Homo sapiens: one gene and its partner. The protein of the gene in region 2 interacts with the protein of the main gene of each other region in a pairwise test. Each region holds a gene or a part of one and is shown on either strand. Other genes may lie near its edges.

What was found.
Region 1: the proteins of GPNMB (region 2) and ITSN2 interact in a two-hybrid assay, tested with the Homo sapiens proteins (one large-scale study listed by BioGRID).

Annotation. Positions count from the first base shown.
Region 1 is NC_000002.12:24,311,865-24,315,696, forward strand, and holds part of ITSN2 (intersectin-2), read right to left. Parts: intron 3,361-3,832; coding exon 3,268-3,360; intron 1,660-3,267; coding exon 1,596-1,659; intron 512-1,595; coding exon 348-511; intron 1-347.
Region 2 is NC_000007.14:23,256,448-23,260,279, reverse strand, and holds part of GPNMB (transmembrane glycoprotein NMB isoform b precursor), read right to left. Parts: intron 3,389-3,832; coding exon 3,215-3,388; intron 301-3,214; coding exon 142-300; intron 1-141. UniProt on the Homo sapiens protein: Could be a melanogenic enzyme.

The DNA of each region.
Region 1 (3,832 bases), on a different chromosome or scaffold from region 2:
TTACTCACATATATATAGAGAGAGAGGAAACTAAGAATAGTATTTGGGATTGGCTATACCTAGGGAGACCATATAATTCATCACGCAACTAGGAGTTGTAAAAGGAGACACTAACTGGACCAGATGCCAGGACAAAAGGCATAAATCAGAACTGTCCCTAGAAAACCAGAACACATGGATCCCCTACCTGTGACAGTGAATTTAATATTTATTATCTCTAACATGAAAATTAACTTGGAATCTGGGGACTGTCATTTTGTGCTAACAAATCCTTTTCTAATACTCAAATATGCCTAGGGATAAAGTTTAAGTAGCAAATACAGGTATTTAAATTAATACATACTTACCAAAACGAGCAGAAATTAATGGAGAAAACATAGGGGGTTGCTTCATAATAGGAGGGAGAACCACAGGCAACTGTTGGCCTTGAAGCTTCAGTTTGATGAGTTTCATAGCTATGGAGAACTCTTGCTGATCCATCTTCCCATCCTTGTTTAGGTCTGATAAAGCCCTAAAAGGAGCATGAGGTAGGTAGATTGCTATGTGGTGTGGTGGTGGGAAAACTAACGTTATTTTGGGGATTGACAAAGTAAAAATGATGATATGGCATTCACGTGTACATCATCACTAAATTTAAAATATCTAACATGTAAAATATATAATAACAAAAAGATAAAACCTACACTTTAAGAAATACTGACCAGAGATAATAACTAATAAAACACTGCCTGTCAAAACAGAATCTAGAGACCTTTGGGCTGAATTCCACCAGTTTAGGTAGAAAAAAATTCAAGATTATAATACTTCTAAATTTAATTTATTCATCTGTCCAAATATTTACTGAATACTTGCTATGTGCCTCGTACTCTACCAGGCATGAGAATATTCCAAGTGGAAAGATGGGACAGGGGTTGTTACTTATTGTAAACGTTTTTAAAAAAACAGATATTATAGAGAATAGTTTCTTTAAAGAAGGAGCAGGGGAAGCGAGGACTAATTTGGGGTTTATAGATTATGAAATAAATGAAACTACAAAATAACAGAAAGAGGATTTTGAGATTCTGCCAAATTATAAGGAAATTTTTCTCAATGATAATGTATATATCTTTCCTTAGAAAATTCTAATGAAATTAGAAATTTGTCCTAGAGAACTAAACCTGAATTATTTTCAATAATTTGCTCAATAAAATTTATTTTCCAAAAAACTGAAGAAATACCTTTTTTTTTTTTTTTTTTCTAAAGAGAGTCTCATTCTGTCATCCAGGCTAGGGTGCAGTGACACAATCATAGTTCACTGCAGCACTGAATTCCTGGGCTCAAGCAATCCTTCCATCTTGGCCTCCCTGAGTAGCTGGGACTAGAGGTGTGGCCACCACACCCAGCTAATTTTTTTTTTAATTTTCTGTAGAGACAGGGTTCTCACTATGTTGCCCAGCCTGGCCTCAAGCAATCCTCCTACCTCAGACTCCCAAAGTGCTGGCAGAAATATTCTTAATAACCAATAGAATGCAACTAAAAACAATTTTATGTTAACACTATATTACAAAAAAACAAAATACTATCAGAAAATTAGGTTCATCTACAAAACACTTTACCATATTTCAGCTAAAACAGGGGCCGGCAGACCTGATTGTAGGAAAAAATTACGTGCTTGATCACCTGGAGGTAATAAAAACAAAACCCAAGCAGCACATTAGTAAATGAAATTATTCCAATGCTTCTGAATAATAATGGGTATATGTTAATGATTTATTATAATTTTAATACCAATCATTAAAGAATAAGTGAAATAGAAACACATAAAAATTATTTACATAACTTTAATAAGACAGATATTTTAAAACAAAAGTCACATCTGCACTTCTATTGTATATTAATCAGTGATGAAAGATGATTCATCTCAGTTTTTCCACAATTGGGGTCTTCCTTAAAAATACTTCCACTTAGTAAAATTTATATTTAAAAACACTATTCCCTAAAAGAGTTTCAATATAAAAAGTACCAGGTGTTAGGAGAGAGAGTCCTCCATGAGTTTCTTCACACTCCTATGTGTCTTGCTCTGTATACCAATAATGTAAGACCCTAATTGCTCTCTGCCTGGGTCACTTCTCAGAATTGGGTTTGTAATGAGCAATCTTAACGAATCCGGTAACGTTTCCCACTGAGACAAGGGACAAACTTGCTTTACTGCTTGCTACAAAAGGGTGGGTTCCCCAAATTCAGTGTTCCTCTCCTGTAACACAATCATAGCATGTGTACTATTCTCCTGGGCTCTCTGCATTGTCTCTGTGGGACTTAGGGAACACTAAAGGAAACAGAAAGATAGATGCCAATGCTCATTTTGCTAGTTATGCTGTTAGTCATAAGGTTCTTTGTCTCTGACTCAGGAATCTTGGGTCTTCCACCCGTAATGGACAAAGTTATTAACCTGTAAGCAGGGTAATCAAATCCTGATACCAGGTAAGGTAATTACTATCATAGCAGTACAAATAACATGGTTAAGTAGATGGATTCCAAAATCAGCCCAAATGGTTTCAAAGCCCAGATTAACACTAACCATCTTTGTAACCTTAGGCAGTTACATAACGTCTCTTAGTCTCAGTTTCACTATTTGTAAATATAGACAACAACAGTGCCTACTTTACAGGGTTGTTGTAAAGGTTAAATAAAATAATGCACTTAGCATAGCATCTGGTATATAGTAAAAATTCAATAAATATCATTGTTCTCATAGTTACTATTATTGTATGTAAAGCACTAAGCTACTTTGGCACAGAAAAAAGTTTAATTAATAGAAAAAAATTTCAAAGGCACACCTAAATTAATCCCATTTTGGCTCTGGTGGTCTTTCTGCAAAACAAGGGCTAGCATCAACAATCAGTGCTTGGTGTAGCCTCAAAGACAGAGGGCTAGCATTAGGAAAACAGATTCCAGAAAAAAAAAGTCTAGATTTTCCATGAAATGAATCTAAGAAATAAACTGAAAACTTTCTAGATATAATGTTAAAATGTGAAACCAGACAATTACACAGAAATTCTTGACTATCATTTAGGATTCAGGAAAAATCTTCCATATCCCAAATTTAAAACAACAAATTAAGACAGTTCCAGGAAAAATAAAGTTAGCATTTCTTTAATTTCTAGAATTCTGATTGATATGAATTTTATCGTTTATTAACACAAATTTGATGGCAGTCAAATTAAAACTAATTCTTAGATATCACATAAGGACCATAATTCACTAATAAAACTAATTATAAATACAAACCTGTTATGTAACCTCCTGAAGGTTTGAGGTTATCAAACTGCCTGTCATGCTTAGTACGTTCTTCAGAGGTAATAGCCCACATGTTTGGCCCTCCTGAAACATAAGTGGAAGAAACTATAGTGTATACATGAGAATGCTTAAAATACAATTCTAAAATGTAAATAGAAATCACAAGTGTTCATTGTATGACAGTATTTAATATTTGAGTGACACAAAGAGTAGAGCTCTATCATAACCATACATAGCACAGCCCTAAGGCTTTTCACTCATTGGCTCAATTAACGTCTATTGAACAAGTGCTATATCACACTCACTGGAAATGGGCATCAAGCTAAATACTGGCAATAAAAAGATGAAGAAAATATTCCCACCCTCAAGGAATTCATGCTCTAGAAAACAACAGTACTTACAGTATTCACCTGTGAAAAATCCTAAGCAGAACTATATACTGCCATAGTTTAGCCCTGTGTCCCCACCAGAACCTCATTTCGAACTGTAATCCCCACGTGTCAGAGGAGGGGCCTGGTGGGAGATGACTGGATCATGGGAGTTGATTTCTCCCTTG
Region 2 (3,832 bases):
TACAACTAATTAAATACACAAGCTTAGGTGGGCCAGATGCATTGTAACCTAACCCCGAACACTTGGCCTTACCTCTTTTTTAACCCATTGACGTCAACAGAATGAAGTGCCTCATCCTCAGTTAGAGTTCACACCACTCACCTGTTACCACGTACACATCTTTCACTTGTGCGATGGGAACATATGCCCGTCCATGTCTTCTGTAGACAGTCACTTCCATGAGTTGAGGCCCAAGTGTCACATTGGCTGTGTTCACAGAAACTCTCACTGAACATCGTCCCAATTTCTGGAAATACTGACCTTTGGGAGGATGGAAATTTTTAGTTATTGGCTGCATTATATCATCATTATAGGAAGCTGTTCCTTAAAGACTAGCTACCACCATTTATAGATTGCTCTGAGGAGGGAAAATAGGATGGGCCTGTGGTGCTGCTTCAGAAAGGGAGATGGTGCTCATTTTAATGTAAAATCTTATAAAACAAACCCACAGTTGTATACATGTAATTGTATACAGTTGGTTAAAATTTAAAAAGCTGTTTAGTGGCATAAAACAGTTAGCCCTTAGTTTACAAATAAATGCTGTTTGTGCTAAGTAATTTGGCACTTGAAATACATGTTTTCCCCATAGAAAATACATTTAATATAATGATGAGGTGTCCAGAAGAGTTAAAAAAATTATTTATCCAATAACCTACCTTATTTTTGTTACTATTTCCGCTATATTATTAAGTGGATTTTTAAAAGGGGACTGGAATCCTCCATCTCCTAATAGTATTTGTATATAAAAATACAGCAAGTGGCTGGGCGCGGTAGCTCATGCCTGTAATCCCAGCATTTTGGGAGGCCGAGGCAGGCGGATCACGAGGTCAGGAGATGGAGACCATCCTGGCCAACATGGTGAAACTCCATCTCTACTAAAATACAAAAAATTAGCTAGGTGTGGTGGTACGAGCCTGTAATCCAAGCTACTCGGGAGGCTGAGGCAGACGAATTGGTTAAACCCGGAGCGGGGATTCCAGTGAGCTGAGATCACACCACTGCACTCCAGCCTGGTGACAGAGCGAGACTCTGTCTCAAAAAAATAAAAATAAAAATCCCGTAAGTGATGAAATAGAGGATGGCAGACATAAAACAGAATGGGGTGGTTCCACAGGCACTTTCCTAGGACACCCCTGAGTCATTCCTTTTCTTTGTCCAACCCTCCCTGCTGCTAGCTAACAGGTGGAAGTAATTCCTCTCCTTCAGGGCTCAAGGACATTTAAACAAATTTTAAAACTCTGTAACTCCTCTTACTATCATTCCCAAATCAAGAACTTTTCTAATCCTGCCAGGGGGCCTGGTTTAGACCTGTCACTGACTGGGTATCTTAGGTTGCATGCTTTTGAGACCGGGTTGTTTCAAGACCCCGTGTATCACACCGTCAAACGTGTGAGAAAAACACACTGGTCTCTCCAGGGATGTGTGGTTTGGAATCCTCCTTCACGTTGAGATGCAGGGGTAGTTCCATCAGAAGTTATAAGGGGAAGAGATGTCTCTCAGGGGTTATTCGTGAGGAAAATGTTAGTTTCAGCTCTGAGAGGTGAGACCATACTTAGTTGAGGGAGAATATCAGTTAACTCTGAGACCTCAGTGGAAGACAGAAATTCAAGGCAGTCTTGTTAGACAAACAGAGCAAGTTCTAGGCTGAAAGTTGATTTTAAATACAGACATTTGATCTGGTTAAGTTATTGGAATGTTTACTAGGCTAAAGAGTCGGCGAGTGTTAGTGAACATAAGTGACTCCATGCAAAATGTCAGAATTCTGTCATGAGAGTGACAAGTCAAAGAAATGTTTGGTGAGTTGGCTAATGGGGTCGTAATGGCAGTGAAAAATAAGTTAGCTTTAAGGCAATTGATTTATATAGATGAGCATAATATTTGACATAGCTTATACTCTGTTCAATGGGTATGTATTGTTAATATTTTGTCCTGATTTGTAAATAAGTTAATTGAAGGAAGAGGAGCTCTCTCTAATCTGTGATGAAAGATGAAATATTTAGTAATCTGGAGGCTGCTTGATTGGTAGCAATTTTCAAATACTCAGTGCCAGGTGGCACCTAGTGACATTTTAAACTAAGAATTTAGCAGCCTAATTAATAATAAGCTCAATTTGCTCCTTCTAAAAGTAATCATTTCCCCAATAATACAACAAAATGAATACCATTTGTAATTTAAAAAAAGACAGAATGGGCTAGGTCAAAGCGGAACAGTAGTTATTTTATTTGTACACAATGAAATATCGTGCAGCCATTAAAACAATGTATAAAAATTAAAAAAATCATATCATCAAATGCTAATGATAGTAAGCAAAAATGTGTATGTGATCTTAATAATGATCTTAAATACTAGCAAAGAAAACACCATAATAATTAACAATTATAATCTCTGGTATTAATTATGGATAATTTTTATTTTTTATTTGTACCTTTTCTGAGGATTTCCTACAAATAAATAGCACATGCTTCTTTAAATCTTAAAAATTCTTTAGAGAACATAAAAAAACTAAAGAATCAATCAATGAATGCTCATCAATGTGCCATTCTGTTTTTTGTTTGTTTGTTTGTTTTTCGAGATGGAGTCTCACTCTGTTGCCCAGGCTGGAGTGCAATGGCTCAATCTCCTCTCACTGCAACCTCCACCTCCCGGATTCAAGTGATTCTCCTGCCTCAGCCTCCTGAGTAGCTGGGATTACAGGTGCGCACCACCACACCTGGCTAATTTTTGTATTTTTAGTAGGGACGGGACTTCACCATGTTGGCCAGGCTGGTCTTGAACTCCTGACTTCAGGTGATCCACCCGCCTCCGCCTTCCAAGGTGCTGGGATTACAAGTGTGAGCCACATGCCCGGTCTCCATGTGCCATTCAAATAAATAAGTGTTAGCATTTTTTCTTGTTATGGTTTTAGGTAGAAAAAAATTAAGTGGTTTTGTTTTTTTGAAAAAGAGCTTAATCTTTTTGTTTTTCTCTCTTTTTAACTCTTCGGTGTCCTGGAGATTTGGCAAGGTTAACCAAGATTTCATTTTTATCTCTCACTGTTCACTCATGCTAAGGAAAGTTAGCAGGGTGACTGTTATTAACTCTCTGTGTTATCATTCTCAATTATAGAGTAAGAAAAGAGAAGGTTGAAATTTTAAGGAAAGGTAAAGAAGAAGCTTAGGGGTTTGTAAAAGCCAACCAAGTGTGTGGAAGACGTAGATGAAATTCCATCTTCTCCATCCGGGGTGGTGAGGAAAAGGTTTCCCATCAGGGAAGACGTTATGATGGCTTTGGCCGGTGCCATTTTCCCCGTCACTGTCCTCTGACCATGCTGTCCAGTTGTAAACATACGGATCAGCAGATAAACCAGCCTCTAAACAGAGATAGAAACCAGCCATGAGTGTTATCTAGGCTCAGAAAACCCAATGTGCATGCATCACTGAATTAAACACTTTTTCGTATTTTTTTCATAACTAGTTTAAAAGTAGTTAGACAACTAAACACTTAATATGTAGAATCCATCCAATAGTATGCTTATGACTTGTGCACTTTTCTGAATTTGTTATATTTCAATGAAGGTTTTATACAAAGCAATTATTCAGAAAAATCCAATGTAGAGATATCATTTAATGTATTTTTCTTCCTATCGGGTTTTCAAGTCACAATCCTATTCAAATCAGAGATACTTTATCTTTTTATTTTGACACACCTCTTTCTGTAGGTTTTTTTCCTGACACACTTGACATCATGACTGTTTATTCATAAAGACTCCGGCACACATGTCTAAGAATAAGAGCATTGTCCTAAATAGCCCTGA